2 separate regions of the Homo sapiens genome follow, and region 1 is linked to region 2. The links come from fine-mapping of genetic effects on gene expression. A gene starts in region 2. The other region holds a variant in brackets. All regions are shown on one strand. Distances are between the middles of the regions. Region 1 overlaps SFMBT1 (Scm like with four mbt domains 1). Region 2 holds the start of ITIH4 (inter-alpha-trypsin inhibitor heavy chain 4).

Evidence for each region. PIP is the estimated chance that this variant, and not a neighbour inherited with it, causes the effect. A credible set is the group of variants that fine-mapping cannot tell apart.
Region 1: its variant is the best candidate, but not a certain one, in a credible set for the expression of ITIH4 in tibial nerve (GTEx, PIP 0.57).

The regions. Positions count from the first base shown.
Region 1 is chr3:52,993,245-53,002,603 of GRCh38, forward strand. The region is part of intron 1 of SFMBT1 (Scm like with four mbt domains 1); the gene reads right to left. Among named protein-coding and RNA genes, the nearest start is that of SFMBT1, 48 kb to the right of the region's middle. RefSeq lists an enhancer at 5,280-5,780 and a silencer at 6,663-6,906. The variant G/A (reference allele first, on the strand shown) is at 5,313.
Region 2 is chr3:52,826,186-52,835,544 of GRCh38, forward strand. It overlaps ITIH4 (inter-alpha-trypsin inhibitor heavy chain 4), which reads right to left and starts at 4,487. Exons shown (of 24, transcript NM_002218.5): 1 at 4,368-4,487; 2 at 2,934-3,094; 3 at 908-1,012; 4 at 606-768; 5 at 356-466. The coding sequence starts at 4,457. It overlaps STIMATE-MUSTN1 (STIMATE-MUSTN1 readthrough), which reads right to left. Exons shown (of 10, transcript NM_001198974.3): 9 at 7,432-7,564; 10 at 6,936-7,245. The coding sequence ends at 7,139. MUSTN1 (musculoskeletal, embryonic nuclear protein 1) reads right to left here and starts at 8,834. Exons shown (of 3, transcript NM_205853.4): 1 at 8,755-8,834; 2 at 7,432-7,564; 3 at 6,936-7,245. The coding sequence starts at 8,763. The coding sequence ends at 7,139. RefSeq lists enhancers at 1,231-1,839, 1,840-2,447.

The sequences.
Region 1 (9,359 bases), 170 kb after region 2:
TGCTAAATGGACATGTTTAGTTACATGTTTTCTTGAGCAGTACTTTTTATTTGTAGCAAAGCTATTACATCTTATACATTATATTACACGTAAAAGTCCATTTTAAACCAAATTACTTCAAAATTTGACCTATATTACATCTGGCACAGACTAGCTGTTCTGCTATACTGTTTAAATGCCTGCTATATTCGCAGCAGTTACTTTATAAAACACATAATCTTTATGTGCTAGCAGTAAATTTCTATACCTTTAAGGGATAATTCTAGGCTAATCAATTAGTATACCAACCTTCCCTATCCCCGACCCCATTCATTCACTTGGCCCTGACCATGCTAAGCATCTGCTACATATAACTCCTAGTAGGAGGTACAACTATGTAGAAACACTACAAAGTTACTGTGACAGTATTTAAAACAGATGCACTGACAGCCAAAAAAAAGGGGAAAAAAATCCCATACAAAAATTGTGAAAAGAGTTAAGATACAAAAGAAAAAAATAACAGTAAAATAGCAAGCGCTCAATATAATTTATGTCAATTTTGTAACTTTTCTTATTTATACACAAGATCAAGGAAAGAACAGAAAATCCTTTTATAACAATAAAACAGTGTAAGAGACAGAAGCATCGTAAGTCAAAGCTAAAAAAAAGCAACCAATTATTATATACTCATTACAAAATAATACACTGGGAAAAGGTCGAAACTGTAATTGGCTCTTATAAAGTAGTAATTCAGGATATATACAGTCTATGACTGTAAAGCACATCTTTATAATACAAGTAGAACACTTTCATACAGTTTCCAACAGAAGGGTTTATTCATAAGCCATTACTGCAGAGGAAAACAACAACAGACAAATCCTCAACCTGTTAATAAGTTCAAACTGTTTGCCAATTCAACTGGGAAATAATGCATTAGAAAAAATACCTACTTGTTAACAAAGTCATTGCATTTGTAACTAAAGAGATCACACACAACTGTGCCATCTGGTCACAAAACAGAAGATAAGGACAAGTTTCTTTTTATAAAAGTATTCCAGCTAATAAATGATGAAGGAATGACAGACTCTCTTATTAAATTACTGGACCTAGGTGTTGACCATCAATAACAGAGACACATCAATCACAAGAGACAACCTGAAACATCATGTGCCTCTTAATGGAAGAACACAACACCAACTATTGAACTATCTTTCAAAAAAAAAAATCAAACTTGAATCTGATTGAGCTTCTAAACACCACAGAGAAGTTAGAGGAACATGTTTGTTTGTTTTTTGAGACGGAGTCTCGCTCTGTGGCCCAGGCTGGAATGCAGTGGGGCCATCTTGGCTCACCACAATCTCCGCCTCCTGGATTCAAGCAATTCTCTGGCCTCAGCCTCCCAAGTAGCTGGGATTACAGGTGTGCACCATCACGCCCAGCTAATTTTTATATTTTTAGTAGAGATGGGGTTTCACTGTGTTGGCCGGGCTGGTCTCAAACTCCCGACCTCAGGTGATCTGCCCACCTTGGCTTCCCAAAGTGCTGGGATTACAGGCATGAGCCACTACGCCCCGCCTAGAGGAACATGTTAACCACCACAATGGTGAGCCAATCAGCAAAATCAAACTCTGGAAAACACCATTAAGACAAACTACCTGGTTTTATCAAACAAATTGGAAAGAAAAAAAGAGCAAGAAATTGAAAAGGACACTATAGGTTAAAAGAGATTTAAAATGAAATTTTAAAAACAATTTGAAAAAAATCTATTCACTGTAGCATCAAGAAAGAAAGAAAGAAAGAAAAGAAAGCAAGAAAAAAAAAAGGAAAAGGAAAGAAAAGGAAAAGAAAAGCCTGTACACTGAAACTGGAAAATATGGCTTAGTTAACTAAAAAAATACCTAAATAAATGGAGAGGCATACGATATTCACAGACTAAAAGATCCAAAGATGCCAAAGGTAATTCAATGGAAATGGAAAAAGGATAGTATTTTCAACAAATGGTACAGAAACAACTGGATATCCACATGGACAAAAATGAACCTCAACCTTACCTCATACCATACATAAAAACTCAAAATGGACCATAAACCTAAATGTAAGAGCCAATATTTTTTAATATCCAGAAAAAGAAAATAGAAAATCTTTCTGAGCTTGGACTGGCAAAGAATTTTTATTTTTATTTTGAGGCAGGGTCTTGCTCTGTCGCCAAGTTTGGAATGCAATGGGCACGATCACTGCTCACTGCAGCCTTGACCTCCTGGGCTCAAATAATCCTCCCATTCTCAGCCTACCAAGTAGCTAGGACTACAGGCATATGCCACCATGCCTTGCTAACTTTGTTTATGTTTTGTAGAGAAGTGGTCGAAGTGGTCTCACTATGCTGCCAGGCTGGTCTCAAACTCCTAAACTCAAGTGATCCTTCTGCCTCAGCCTCCCAAAGTGCTGGGATTACAAGTGTGAGCTATTGCACCCAGCCTGGCAAATAACTTTAAAACATGACACCAGAAAAAGCACAAACAATAAATTGGGACTGTATCAAAGTTTAAAACGTTTGCTCTTCAGGCCAGGTGCCACCCCCCAGCTCACGCCTATAATCTTAGCACTTTGGGAGGCTGAGGCGGGTGGATCACCTCAGGTCAGGAGTTCGAGACCAGCCTGGCCAACATGGTGAAACCCCGTCTCTACTAAAAATACAAAAATTAGCCAGGACAGTGGTATGTGCCTGTAGTCCCAGTTACTTAGGAGGCTGAGGCAGAAGAATCACTTGAACCCGGGAGGCGGAGGTTGCAGTGAGCCAAGATCACACCACTACACTCTAGCCTGGGCAACAGGGTGAGACTCCATCTCAAAAAAAAACAAAACTTTTGCTCTTCAAAGACACAATGAAGAAAAAAGACAAGCCAGAGGCTTAAAAAGAAATTTTTTTGCAAAACATATACCTAATATGGATTTATATCAAAAAGCTCTTAAAAATAAACAATCCTTTTTTTTTTTTTTTTTTTTTTTGAGACAGGGTCTCCCTCTGGTCACTGGGCTGCAGTGCAGTAGCACCATCTTGGCTCACTGCAGCCTCAACCTCCTGGGTTCAAGTGATCCTCCTGCCTCAGACCTGCCAAGTAGCTGGGACTACAGGCGCACGCCACCACACCCAGCTAATTTTTGTATTTTTTTAGTAGAGACAGAGTTTCACCTATTACCCAGGCTGGTCTCGAGTTCCTGAGCTCAAGCGATCTGCCCACCTCAGCCTCCCAAATGCTAGGATTATAGGCATGAGGCACCACACCCGGACAATAATCCAATTTTTCAATCAAAAGATTTGAATAGGTACTTCAGCAAAGAAAATATATGAATGGCAAGCACATGAAAAGATAATTAGTCACTAGGGAAATACAAATTAAAACCACTATGAAGTATCATTACACACCAACTAAAATGGCTAAAATACGAACAATAGGAAATTTAATAAGGATGGAGAAGTGAGTCCTCATACAATGCTGGTGCAAATGTAAAAATGGTACAGCCACTTTGAAAATGGTTTGGCAATTTCTTAAAAAGCTAAACACAGGCCGGGCACGGTGGCTCACGCCTGTAATCCCAGCACTTTGGGAGGCAGAGATGGGCAGATCATGAGGTCAGGAGATTGAGACCATCCTGGCTAAAACGGTGAAACCCCATCTCTACTAAAAATACAAAAAATTAGCCGGGCGTAGTGGCGGTCGCCTGCAGTCCCAGCTACTCCGGAGGCTGAGGCAGAAGAATAGCTTGAACCTGGGAGGCGGAGCCTGCAGTGAGCCGAGATCGCACCACTGCACTCCAGCCTGGGCGACTGAGCGAGACTCAGTCTCAAAAAAAAACAAAAACAAAAACAAAAAAAAAGCTAAACATAGACTTATCATACAACCAAGCAATTCCACTCTTGAGGATCACCAAAAAGAAATGAAAACAGCCACACAAAGACTTTACTTGTGTTCACTGCCAAGAACTAGAAATAACCCAAATGTCCATCAACTAGTGAATGGATAAACAAAACGTTTTACCTATTTATACAATGGAATTATTCTCCCAGCACTTTGGGAGGCCGAGGGGGGCGGATCACGAGGTCAGGAGATCGGTACCATCCTGGCTAACACTGTGAAACCCGTCTCTACTAAAAACACAAAAAATTAGTCTGATGTGGTGGCAGGCACCTGTAGTCCCAGCTACTCGGGAGGCTGAGGCAGGAGAATGGCGTGAACCCAGAAGGCGGAGCTTGTAGTGAGCCGAGATCATGCCACTGCACTCCAGCCTGGGTGACAGAGCGAGAGTCCATCTCAAAAAAAAAAAGAAAAGGAATTATTCTCAGCAATAAAAACAAACTACTGATACATGCAATAACAAGGATAAATCTCAAAAACTTCATGCTATATGAAACATGCCAGACACAAAAGACTACATATTGGATGATTCTATTTATGTGAAATTTCTAGAAAAGGCAAAATTGTATAGAAAATACATCAGTGGTTTCCCAGAATCAGGATGCATTGTCTGTAAATGACCACATTTTGGGGGTAATAAAATGTTCTAAAACTAAATGGTGATGATGGTTGCATAACTCTATACAATTACTAAAATTCATCAAGTAGGTCACTTACAATATAAAACATGCTTCAATAAAACATTGTTTAAAAAAAGAGAGAAGATAACACAACGTGTTGGTCAATTGGATCCTTTAAACAATATTTTTTAAATTTATTTTTGTTATTGTAAAATACACATAAAATTTACCATTCTAATCACCTTAGATGTATAGTTCTGTGGCATTAAGGACATTCACAATGTTGTACAAGAAAATTTTTTAAATTACAGCATGTATAACAATGGGAACTGAGCTCTGCATAAATTCTAGTGTTCATAAGAAAAAATGTAGATCAGGTCGGGCACGGTGGCTCACGCCTGTAATCCCAGCACTTTGGGAGGCCAAGACGGGCAGATCACGAGGCCAACACGGAGAAACCCCGTCTCTACTAAAAATACAAAAAATTTGCCGGGCGTGGTGGCGGGCGCCTGTAGTCCCAGCTACTCCGGAGGCTGAGGCAGGAGAATGGCATGAACCCAGGAGGTGAAGCTTGCGGTGAGCCGAGATCGCGCCACTGCACTCTAGCCTGGGTGACAGAGAGAGACTCCGTCTCAAAAAAAAGAAAAGAAAAGAAAAAATGTAGATCAATAATATTATTTTGCTGACGCATTGGAGAAAGTAAAGGCTGGGTGCAGCTTCAAGCTGAGGACCACCCACCATGCCCCCATCATGGTGGTTCCCCTAGGTGCTGAAGGGCCCAGCCATAGCTCTCGCCCTC[G/A]CAGGGTCCCTCCAGGGTCTCTGCTGTTTCCTACCTAGGGGTGACTGCAGCCATGGCTAAGAAAGCGCCAGCGCCCACCCACCTGGGCCAATGGACTGGTTCTGCTCGTGCCACGCTGGTTCTGCTCCTCGCCATCTCGGCAGTTCAGAAAGAACCCCAACGAGCTTGTGATCTCCCGGGTCCTGTGGGCGTATCAACAGGGGGCCAGCCCTGTCCCTCAACCCTGGGGAGCTGGTGCTGCCGATCGACCTGACTGGCCCACAACGTCTTCAGCTACCACTGCAAGGGCCTGCGGGGTGACGGCTGTGCAGCGCTGCTCGCCTAGCTGTTGATCGCCTGGCTGTTGATGGGCTGGCACCCGCAGAGCTGCCCTGCCGGCCACCGACCACCATGGAGGGAGCATTCAGCTGGTGCGCGAGCTGGGTACTAAACTGGCTCTACTGTGAGCCGCCCTCGGCCCCTCCATCTCCTCTTACCCCTTGTCATCCATGCGTAAGCCGGGGACGCCCGAGGACATGCTCTTCACCCAAGGCCTGCGCCGGCGTCTGCTGATCAAGGGCCCAGTACAAAGGCCGTCATGGAGATCCAGGCCTTCGCCAACAGCGGCCTGTTCTGGTGCAAGGGCCAGCCGGGCAGCCCAAGGACCTCACGACTGGCTGCTGGGTCAAGGCGTTCCCGGGGTGAAGGTGGATAAGCAGACCACCAAGGGCTCCTGGAACCCTACGTGAAGGAGGCCAAGCACAGCCGTGGACACCGGCCTGAAGGCTGGGAAAGGAGCCGACGCCCCACCTCCTCTGACCAGGCCTGCGGGGAGGAGCCACCCACGCGCCACAGCAAGTCCTGGACCTGGCCCTGCATTCCAGGGTGGGGCAGGGAGGCTGGATTCTGAGAGAGCTGCTTCCGGATTGCGTTGGGGTAGTCAAGGAGCTCGGGACATCGCAGGGGAGGCAAAAAGCCTTGGCCAGTGCTCTTTTGGTGTATCCCTTCAGCTTCCAGAGGGGAAGCCACACCCTGATGCTATGTTCAAACGCTCCAGAAGACAGGAGTTCGTGTCCTTGCCCCTAACCACTGCTGTGGATGTCACTGGCCAAAGGTCATGAGGGGAGTGGGCCACATGAGTGGCCACTTGCCATGACTCCCTGAGCAGGGTGAGCCCCCACTCATCCTGTGCCATGTTATGTTTCCACCCAAGCAGCAGGGTAGGAGGCACAATGAGTGCCCATTCCTCTCCCTGATGGGCCCCCCAAGCTCTACAGACCAAGCAAGGAGACCCCATGACCCATGGCATGAAATCATCTTGAAGTTTTTGCTTTTTTTTTGGAGACAGAGTATCGCTCTGTCGCCCAGGCTGGAATGCAGTGGCACAATCTCGGCTCACTGCAACCTCTGCCTCCCGGGTTCAAGCAATTCTCCTGCCTCAGCCTCATGAGTAGTTGGGACTACAGGCATGTGCCACCACATCAGCCCGGCTAATTTTTTGTATTTTTAGTAGAGACAGGGTTTCACCGTGTTAGCCAGGATGGTCTTGATTTCCTGACCTCGTGATCCGCCCACCCCGGCCTCCCAAAGTGCTGGGATTACAGGCGTGAGCCACCGCACCCAGCCTACTCTTACATTTTTTTAGGTTTTTATTTACTCACTGCTTTAAGCATACACGACACTTCGGTTTTATTCCTCCCTTTGTAATGTTTTTTCTCTTAAGCCACTTTTTTTTTTTTTTGCAATGCCTTCCTCTTTGAAAGCATTAAAAAAACAGTATTTTGTTTATGTTTCAACAACAACAAAGAGGACTTAATGTCTGGCACACTAAAATATTTACCAATAAAACAAACTGATATTTGGAATTTTTTTAAGTTTTAAAAGTGTGGTCACTGTATTGTGATCACACAATTACATTAGGAAAATGTCTTATTCTTAGAGATGTACATTAAAGTATTAAGAGTACTGAGTTATAATGTCTGCAATAGAGCCTCAAATGTTTCACAGGGGACTATATAAATACATATATATGCCTATATATACATATATTACATATATACACATATATAAAAGACAAAGAGAGAAAGCAAACAGTGATTCTAGGTGAAAGACAAAGTGAGAACTCAGCAAAAACGTAAATTAGTACAGGTTTGTTGGAAAGCAATGTGATGACATCTCAAAATTGGAAGAAATTTACAAAAACTAAAACATGCCTAATGCATGTCCTTTGACCCAACACCCCTTCTAGGAATTTATCTTTAAAAAACTCACACAAGACCACAAAGCAAGAAAGGGTATTAATTACAAAAATTTTTTAATGGTTTAATACTCAAATATCTACCAATAGGTGGTTAGGTAAATAAGTTATTGCAAATGCTTAAAATGAAAAAAAATATATGAAAAGAAGAAAGGGGTGTGGGTACAGATGAAACCGCATTGGCTGTGAGTTTATTACAGAAGCAATCTTTGAATAATGGATATTTGGATGTTCATCTCACTGTTTAGTCTACTTTTATATATGTTTGACATTCTCCCTAACAAGTCAAAAACAAAAAAGAACCACACAAAATTCCAAGGGCACAATTCTTTACAAGTGGTCATCGACCCCCTTTCTTTCCCAAATTAATAATATCAACATGGGAGGGAAGGTTCTACACTACATAAACAAGTACACATAAATATTAAAGTTCTTTCAGCCTGGGCAACATAGTGAGACCCTGTCTCTTAAAAAAAGATTTTCTTTTAGTTAGCTAGGTGTGGTGATTCACATCTGCAGTCCTAGCTACTAGAGAGACTGAGACAGAAGGACTGCTTGAGCTCAGGAGTTCAAGGCTGCAGTGAGCCATGATCGTGTGTCACTTTAGCTTGCATGACAGAGTGAGACTCCAACTCTTCAAAAAAGAAAAAGTTCCATCACTCTTAATTATTCTTACATCCTCAGGTCATCCCTGAACAGAAGAGTTTTGCTTTCAAGCATCTTGGATCCAGTAGTAAGTAGATGGCAGCTCACATTTACTGTGCTCCCACCAGCAAGCAGCTCTTCATTTCTAATAGCTCTAGCTAAGGAAAGAAACAAGTGTAGAAAAAGCCAGGCACAGTGGCCGCGCCTGTAAATTTTAGCACTTTAGAAGGCCAAACAAAGCAGGAGGACCACTTGAGCCCAGGAGTTTGAGACCAGCCTGGACAACATAGGGAAATGGGAGATCCTATCTCTACCAAAAAAAAAAAAAATTGTAAAAAATTTGCCAGGCATGGTGGCTCATGACTGTGGTCCCAACTACCTGGGAGGCTGAGGCTGGAGGATATGTAGGCCCAGGAGGTCAAGGCTGCAGTGAGCACTGATCCTGCCACCGCATTCCGGCCTGGGCAACAGAGCAAGACCCAGTCTCTCACACACACACACACACACACACACACACACACACACACACACACACATAAATGAAAGATTACTGCCTGTTTTGAACTTTGTTTTCTATGGAGTTGTTCAGCTTTTCCTATTAGAAGTTCAAATATGTGTACTACATATTGTGCCATTTCTGAATTATAACAAAAGCAAGAGAGCTTAGAAATCATCCAGCCCAGTTGGCCGCAGTGGCTCACGCCTGTAATCCCAGCACTTTGGGAGGCCGAGGCAGGTGGATCACGGGGTTAGGAGATCGAGACCATCCTGGCTAACACGGCGAAACCTGTCTCTACTAAAAATACAAAAAATTAGCCGGGCGTGGTGGCGGGCACCTGTAGTCCCAGCTACTTGGGAGGCTGAGGCAGGAGAATGGCGTGAACCCGGGAGGCGAAGCTTGCAGTGAGCCAAGATCGCACCACTGCACTCCAGCCTGGGTGACAGAGCGAGACTCCGTCTCAATAAAAAAAAAAAAAAAAAAAGAAATCACCCAGCCCAGTATCTTGAATTAACAAATAAGCAAAACTATCCAGGCCCAAAGTTATTATTTCAAATTATAATAACTTCAGTATTCTCTAGTTAGGAGGTATTCTCCTCAGTTTAATTTGAATAAACTAAGTGCTCACTGAACACCTGCCACAGTGAACTGTAATGAATAACGAGCA
Region 2 (9,359 bases):
GAGGGGTGTGATGAGCTCCCTGTTCCTGGAGCTGCGCAAGCAGAGGCTATTCCAGGATGTGTGCCATCCAACCATCTCCTTCTCTCCACCTGGCCCCAGGACCCTCACATCAGTCTATTATCCAGCCCCTTCCCAGACAGATCTCAGGGCTCATACGAGGACGCCATGGTCCTTCTCTAGGCTTTGCCCTCCCCATCTGCCAAATGACAGCAAGGATGCAGAGATCTCAGGAGCCTCTCCAGGTCACAGCTCACAGGAGGGAGAGCCCATCCTGCTTTCCAGAAATCCGGGCTCATAGGGCTGGCCTGAAGGCAGGGCCCTTGGTACCCTCACCTGCTGACCACAACAGGCCCACCTTGGTCTTATTCTGCCAGGTGGTGAGGGCGTCTACCAGCTGGTTGGTCATGAAGGTGCTCTCTGTCTCCAGAAAGCTGATGCCCTGGGGCTCGAAGATGTGAATGTCCATCTGGAGGCAAGATGTGGGTCCCTGGGTCAGCCAGGAGCCTGGGCTGGGGCTCACAGGAGGCTCAGGGACAAAGAGGGGCCGCCCTCAGCAGGGCAAGGGTCATGCAGGAGGCCTCCCTGGAAGAGGTAGCAGCAGGTACCTGCAGGTGCTTGACCAGCTGCTGGGGCCGCACTTTCAGCAGCAGCTCGTACACCCCCAAACGCCGCTTGAGCAGCTCCTCATAGACCAGCTCAAAGGTGATCTTGGCATTGGGAGCCACACTGACCGACACCTGGAACTGCTCCATGTTTCTCCCGGTGGCCCTGGGGGAGAAGGGCATCAGGCCTGCTCCTCCAGGACAGGTGGGGTAAGGCTGGTAGAGGTGGGAGCAGGACTAAGGGCCAAAGGCAAGGTGGCCTTTGTCTAGACCCTCCCCACTGAAGCTGCCCCCCACCAGCTCACTTGACGAGGCCAGCGCTCTTTCCCTTGGCCACTGCTGCGCTGTACTGTGCCTGGGCTTCAGCCTTCTCCTTGATGATCCCTGGGTAGGTCATGCCATCGATGATCCTGGGGGCAGAAGGGTGGGAGTTGTTGAGAGCCTGGTGGCAGGGGCCCATTCCACTCCTGCCTCCTCCAGAGAGCCTTTCTGGACTCGGTGTGCCTCTTGACACAGTGACTCCCATCTTTGCCTGAGCCCAGTGCCATTTATTATGCACCTACCGCATACAGGACCCTGTGCAGGGCACTCTGCAAAGTGCTCCAGGCCTCTAGCTCCCGGAGGTGTGTACAGTAACAGTAAGCATTCATTTTATAGAAGGGACGAAGGGGAGGCTGCAGAGGGGCAGGGCCGGGCTAAATCCTGCCTTCTCTCCACCTGTCCAGTCTGGCCGAAGCTGGCCCACATTCCCACCTGCCCCTTCCATTTCACGGACTGTTCCAGGGGAACTAGTTCATCACCAGCAAGAGCTCTCTGAGTCACACTTGTTCCCAGCCCTGCGTGCAGCCGTGTGGGGCCAGGACTGAGGAGGAAGCAGACGTAGGGCTGGAGGCTCTGAGCACTTTCCCCCTACAGCAGTCTCCCCGCTCCCTCCCACAAGAGGCAGGCACCCTATAGGGAGGCTGGCATATCTGGAAGGAGGTTTTGGACAACTGGTGGACGGGACTCCTGGGTGTGTGGACACACTCCTAGCAGCCATCCTTTGGGGGCTGAGAAAGAATGGCCCAGGCCATTTCTCAGGGAGGAAAACGACTTTTTCAGAGCCTCCTTGTGGGGTGTGTAGGGATGTGCCTGGTCAACTTCATGTGGTAGTGTGTGGCAGTGGGCAGGAGGGGGAGCAGCCAGGATGTCAGGACTACGCGTCCCTCCTGCCTGACCTTCCTGGTTATAATTTAACTCTAGCCCGGGATGGGGCTGGTGAGTGGGCAGTGGCACTCCTCCCCCTGGGTAGGCAGTGCTTCATCTCTCCAGATGGCCAGCTGGGGCTCCTGGCCAGGTCAGGGAGCAGGGAACCTGCTCTCTGCTCCCCTAACTCATGCAGCAACAGGTTCTGGGTCTAGAGAAGGCAAGTGACAGTCTTGGGCTCTCAGCAGATGCCACGGGCCTGGACCTGGCAACTGCTGACCCTGGCACCCATGTCGAAGGCTGACACAGCCCGTGGGGCTTGCACTGCAAGCTGGGCAGCATAGGCCCGGGCTCTGGGTTAGGAAAAGTAGAGGCTGCGGTGGAGTGGGGGATGCTTGGCGCCTGAGGGAGGAGACTAGCCCCCACTGCAGTTTTCCAGAGGCCACAGTGTGGGACCCCACATGAGACACTCCCTCTCTGCCCCACCATCGCCCTGTTTCTGGGAAGAGTCTTGCCCTTGTCCTAAATCACAGCTTTTCCTGGCAGCAAGGGACAGGCGGCATCCTGGTGCATTTAGTAAACATTGGAAACTGAGTTGGGAAGGGTAGGGGAGGGTGGCAGAGGACAAAGTGAGGACCATCCTTGGCTCATAGAATTCAGAGAAACCTCAGGCATCTCTCACGCAGCCTGAGCAAAAATGTCCTCTGCAGGATCCCAGCTGGGGCAGACCTAGGAGAATCCTCCTCAAGCCACTCTCCACTGTGAGGAAGCCAAGGGTCTAGAAGGTTTTCTGTACTTTGAGCTGGAATGTGCATTTTGGTGACTCCCTCTTGCCTGGTCTGGCCTCAGGAGGCCTCAAGTCTGTGCTCCTCAAAGGCAAAGTCACAAAGATTCTGTGGTTCTCTGCCTAACACCTGGACAGCACTTAGGGATGATGAATGGCTGGATGGAGGGAAGGACGGGGGCATCTTTGAGAATAAGTCCTTTGGCAAGCCCCTGTTCCTGTGTGGCCCCAGGTGCAGGGTGTACTCCTGAAGATGTACACCCTGGCATGCCTTACTTCAAGAAGAGGGTTTGCTGGCACAGAGCGATGGAGTCATAGCACTGGGGGGTGTGGAGAGGGGAGGAGGGTGGGAAGGCACCTACATGGAGAAGTTGGTGATGAAGGCTTTCTTGGGCAGCTCCATCTGGAAGGTGGCCTCCTGCACAGTATTGGCCCTATTGACCACTCGGCTGGTGACGACCGTGTGGGCAAATCGGGATGAGACCCTGGAGTCCACGGTGAGGCTGTAGATGTCGATGCCATTCTGGACCAGCAAAGAAGAAGGGGGTTGCAGGGTTTCAATGCCACCTCAGCTCGGGGTGACGCTCTTCAAGAGTTGGCCCTGACTCTGGCTCTAGACCAAACCCTGGCTCCCAATCTGACTGAGCCACTGACCAGGCCTCAGGCTGAACCCAGTGAGGCATCTCATATGTGAACATTTGTCTCAGGTAAGAGATAGCAGTGTGCTTCATTCCCCACCCTACAGCACCACAGGGCAGGGGCCACGTCCTTCTTGATCTATAGGGGCCCAGAGCACCCCTTGGAGAAGAACAAGCATGCAGGGGGTGGAGCTGGTGAAGCCAGGGCCAGTGTCTGGGAGGGGCATCACACTCAGCCTTTGGGCAGGGGTGAGAGACCTGGTGGGGTCAGGGAGCTTTGCATGCTGGCTTAGCTTTGCCCAGAAAAAGGGCAGTGACCAGGTCCTTTGATTTCTGGAGACTTTGGCCTCTGTGGCAACAGGGAAGCTCCCACCAGTCTCCTAGAAGGAAGCCCTCAGAGCTGGGAGAATTCGGAGGTAGACTAGAGTCTGGTCTCTGAGAGTTGGGAATCTTCCTCTCTGCTCCGCAGTGGACCCTCCCCAACTCATCCCCACTTCCGCAGGGCACTCCCCTAGCAGGTGCCATTTGCCTTGAGGTCTGTGTCCCCCGAGGAGGGGCACACGGGCACCTCTTACCTGCTTGTGTGTGACATGCTCATGCGCACTGCACCAACTCTGCTCGGCTGCATGCGGCTGCCTGAATGCAGTTTGGCACAGAGGTGCCAAGTGGCTTGTTTATGTGCTTGGGTATTTGCTCTGCGACAAGCACTGTCCTAAGCACTTCATAGATACAATGGGTTTGGTTTTCACAACAAGCACTGTCCTAAGCACTTTATAGATACAATGGGTTTGGTTTTCACAACCGCCACCCTCTGAATAGGTTCTAGTATTACCCTGTTTTACAGATGAGGAAATTGAGACATAGTCAGCATAAATCATTCTCCTGAGGTCACTTACTAAAAGGCGGTAGAGCCAGGCTTGTAAAACTGTATTTCCTCATTTGGAAAATGGAAATGATTGGATCATCCCCTCTATTAGGTGGGAGAATACCAGTAAGGCCCTTGGGGTAGTGCCTGGCGGGAGGTCTGCACCATTTTTTTGCACACACAGGGATGCACACGCACTTGTGCTGACACGCTGGCACATGCGGAGGCTCTTCCCCACTTCCCAGGCGTTCTCTCATCCCCCAGCTCACGCCACACCCATGGACACTGGCTACCTTTTCGGCAGTAGTAGTCTGGTGGATGGCCAGCAGTGAAAGCAGGACGAGAACTTTGCTGCAGGTACGGACAGGCCTTGGGGGCTTCATCGTGGCTCCAGTGTCTGCCAGGAGGCTTCTGAACTCGACAGCAAGTGGGGAATGGATTAGTAACTTGTTTGCTGCCCCACCCACATGGGGGCAGGTTCTGGGAAATTGGGATCTACAAGCCAAAAACCACAGTGACCTCAGATAAGCAAATGACGAACGTCCCATGGACCTTGGCTGGGGGCAGGAATGTATACCAAAGAAAGGTAGGCTCAGTTTGGAGTGGGGGTACATGCCCCTTCTGAAAAGTGCGAAACCTTCACCAGGACCCTTCACACCAGGCATTCCACCAAGCTCCACAGGGCTGGGAGGGAATTGACAGTGAAGATGTCAGTCTGCTCTCCCTAAGTCCAGCCCGGGGAGAAACAGCGGGGGATGGTGGGGAAGACTAGGGCTACAGGGCTACCCTAGCGGCTTCCCGGAAGAAGGGGGCTTGGCCACCAGGTAAGTGTGTCTGGCTGATGGGAGGGCCCAAAGGCATGGAGTGACTCTGGGAGGTGTCTGTGTGGGGCAGATCTAGAGTCAGGATAGATACGCCGTATTTCTGAAGTGAGAGGTGCTGGGCACGGGGCGCCTCCTTCTCTCTCCTGGGGTCCCAGGTTGCTGTTTGGGTGCCATTAATCTAGCCAGGGCTTTAGGTTCAACCCCAGCAAGGCCCCCAAAACAAGAATGGCAATACAACTGAGTCATAAACCTGCCACATCCTGTGGCACAGAGGTCTCCATGCGGGGAGTTTATTGACAGAAGAGCATGGAACAGAAGACAGACCTGACAGTGCCAGCAGCTCCTGAGGGGTGACTGGGGAGTCATTTGGTGGAGCAGAGGGAGCCCAGGAATCGCTGGTTGAGAGAGGGCAGAATGCTGTTGTCATGAGCAGTGTGATGCTGCCACAGCCCAGACCCAGGGGAGCGCTGCCCAAAGGCCTGGGGTGGGTCCCGGCCTTGCTAAAGTTGAAGCGCTCTGCTCCTTGTAAAGTGGGATCGAGTGAGTACATATTATGCGCTCTGGGCACCGCTGGGGCTCGTGTTCCCTGGTGGCTCTGGGGAAGCCAGCTCCTGAGTCTGTGGCCACAGATGGGTAAAGATGAGTCATAAAAGTGTGGCCAGATGCCAAGTCCTGGATCAGGGAAGGACGGCGGCTCCGTGACACCAGCCCTGAGGGGGCCAGCTGCCTTGGGAACCTATCGGGGGCCTTGGGGCAGCCAGTGGCTTCCAGAGGCTGGGGAGGGTTTCTCCACCAGTCCTGTCTCCATTAGAGGTGGCGGCAGGCCTGGGGCAAAGGTGCCATAGACTGGAGCTATTTCTACAGCTGCAAGGAAGACGTTCCCCTTCCTTAGCATGACTGGCCAGAAGCCTCATCTCTGCGCACGTCTCCACTGCTCACCCTTTTGGCTCTGGATACGATTGGGATTACACAGGGGAACACGCTCCTTTCAGTGTCTGGGGGAAGAGTCTCCCCATGGAGTCCAGCAAGTAGGACTGGGCCCTTCCTCACAGCAGGGCTGCTCCCTTGGGGCAGAGAGCACAGGCCCAGCCCGGACTCAGGGCTATATAAGGTGGCCAGGCTGGCCGGGACTGTGGGAAACGTTCTGGGCAGCCAGAACCTCCTGGGACAGGAAGGCATCCCCAGCAGGCATCAGCCCCGAGCCAGGCACCACAAGCCCAGGCTCTGCCAGTCCAGCTCCGAAAAGAGCCACTGTCAGCCTGTCCATGGTCATGGTCTTGCCATCACAACGGGACAGGCCTCTATGGGTCTTTTGAACCTGGCACTTCCAGGCACACAGGGGACAGAGGACTGGAGAGAGAAGGGTCATGCAGGCTGAGAATCTGGTGTTCCATGCCCCAGACAGCATGGTTGGAGCAGAATGTGGGAGTCTTACCCCTGCTGTTTGGAAGAGACGGTAGCTCAGGAAACTGACTGCCAGAGAGGAATCTCAATCTGGCTCTGACTTGGAGGGGACAAAAGCCGGGAGGAGGCAGTGTGAACAAAAGTGTAGGGAGGGAGAGGGGTTTTGAGGTCCCTAGTGCAGTGCAGGGAGAGGGGTTTTGAGGTCCCTAGTGCAGTGCAGGGAGAGGGGTTTTGAGGTCCCTAGTGCAGTGCAGGGAGAGGGGTTTTTGAGGTCCCTAGGTGCTGCAGAGCCTGCAGGTCCTCAGAGGCTTCTCAGCAGCTTCTGTGGAAGGCAGGAGGAGAGGTGGTCCCTGAGACCCCACCCACTTCACTCTGAGCAGTGTCATCATGGCCTGCTTTATGGAATAGACTCCAGCTCAACTCCCCTGTAGTATAAAAGGGGAAACTGAGGCTCAGAAAAGTCTGAAGTCACAGGTCAGCACTGAGTCTCCATGTCCAAGGCAGCATGTGGCAGTGCCCATAATAGCACCTGTGCTATCCCCTGGGATCCTCTTAAACGGACATGTTCCATGTTCCCACCCTGTCCTCCCTCTCAATAGTGGCCATAGCCAGGGACCAACCAACACCTTCTGATTGCTGGGGCCACGTGGGCATCCTCTTTATTGGTGCTTCCAAGGTGCTGGTGCAGAGCCCTTGGCTGAAGGGCCTGGACTGTGGGGGAGGGTGGCAGCCCCAGAGACAGCAGGGGAGAGGAAGCGTTCTGGCATAAAAAAGAGTTCCTGGGAAAGGCTCCTGTTTCCGAGCATTCGGGCAGCAAGGGGAGTGGCGCACACTTCTCAGCCGAAGACACTCTTGGTGGGTCCGGCTTTGGGCTTCTCAAAGACAGTCTCGGTACCTGTGCGGGTGCGGCTGAACACCGACGGGGCGGCCGAGCCAGCTTGCTCTGTGGGAGGAGGTAAAGTCAGGGGCCAGCCTAGCTTCCTGGGAGGGAAGATCCCTTACGATGGGAGCACCTTTCTTGAACCCAGGAATACTGGATTCTCAGAAAAGGATCCTTGACCACCTCCCCCCACCACTGACACACACCTGCACCCCCATCCCCAGCCCCAGATGGCATGAGGACACTCACCACACTCTCGCATGACCTGGTAGGTCTTGGACTTGATTTCCTGGTTCTTGGTCAGGTTTCCTCGGGCCCCCTTCAGGTCCTCGTCCTTCACAGGGGGGCGCTTCTTCTTGATAGGGGCTTCCTGAGCACCAGCCTTGGAGATCCAAGAGCCTCATCTTACTACCTGAAGCCTCGGTAGAAAGGCACACCTACCTCTGTGCCTTGGCCAAGACCCCTCTTCTCTGCTCATTAAACCCAAGCCTATTCAAGGCTCTACTCCTCTTCCAGAGAAAGCCTTCCCAACTATACTCCACCTGCTGCAGGTCTCCCAGCTGTCTTGGTCTGACTTGCCCATGTGCCTTTCCCCTATAGCCTGGGAGCTCTTGGGAGCAGTGGCTGCTGCAGCCTCACACTGGCGTGTCTGGCTACCTGGTCAAGCTCAGGACTGGGCACAGTGGGGAACAGCGAAGGGGACTAGCTCTGAGGTTGGGCAATACTAGGGAATTTGGTTAGTTCCAAAACCTGTTCACTGGGTGGCAAGCGGTTCCTCAAGGATTGCCCCCTTCCAGAAAAGCGCCACTATTTACTTTGTGTCTTTGGGGCTGGAAATGGGGTAGAAGGGCCAGATGCCCACAGAATTACAGTCCAAAATGGCCACCCACCCACAGAGCAGGCAGCAAGGACAGTCCTCTCTCTTGGCAGGCTGGTCTGTCCCTCCAGGGTGGGGGACACCCAGGCTCGGTGTTTACCCTACCCCTCAACCCCAGGCGCCTGTGAGTCTGAGACCTGCCTGTGCTTGGGTGCAGGTGCAGGTATTTCCTCGCTCAGCCTGGGCCAGGCTCCTCAGAGCAACACACTATACCCCTGTACAGCGATGCATCCAGCTGTGTCCCTCCAGCCTCATGTGCACACACATACAGCTTCATGCATATACCATACACAGAGACAGACAGACCTATGTGTGTGGCCACACACAGAGTGCATGGCTGCCGGGCCCATAGCTACAAATGCACAAAGCTCTACACACTGAGCTATATCGGCAGCACACACACAGATGCGCACACACACACACACACACACAGGCACATGCAAAGATCTATCTAGGCCCCCCCCACCCCCAACATTTCTCTCCACTCCTCCTAACAAACCGTGGAATACCACCAAAGCCACATAGAAGAGGGGTTCTTCAGGGGGTCCTCCCTGAGCCCCCATCTCCCAAGGGCTGCAGAGCCTCCAGTTCATGCTTGGGGCTCAGATCAAGACACAGCTGCCAGAGCCGAAAGTGTCCAGGACTCCACCTCCACTCCCTCTGGCATCAACACAGCCCTTGCTGGGTCCTCCTACCTGGGACATGGTGGGTATTGTGTAAGCGCTGGGTCTCTGAAGGCGCCTCTCTGGCAGGCAGCAGCTGCTGGAAAAGATCTGAGTGGAGCCCAGCCTTCTGAAACTTATATAGCCTGCTTGCTTGTCCCGCAGAGTCACTGCCCCTCCTCTGACAGGCTCCCTGATGATTCAGGTCCGCAGGGTCGCTGGCTTCAGAGTTTATTCTCGGAGATGAGAGGGGCTCCCAGTACTGCTGCCTGGGGGCTGCAGCCCTGATGAAAGCAGATGGCTGCAGAGACCCTTTGCCCTCTGGGACAGCTGCTTGATTCGCCGGGGGGAGGTGCTGGCACTGACGGACATGCTTTGTGTTTACGGATTTGGGTCCTGGAATGTGTGACCATCTGAATTGTTCCTCTGCAAGGGTTCATCCCAGTGTGTGGGGTGGGTGTGGGGTGTCCCTGAGGGAATGGAGGGCCCTAGCTGGGTTGGACTGCTCCAAGCTTGTTTTTCTTCCTCTTCCATCCCTTCCCCTGGATTCCAGTGGACAGATTTTCCATCCCTGCATGGTGGCAGAGCAGGAGCTTCCCGTGTCTGCTGCGTCTGATTATGGCAAGCTCACTGGGCCC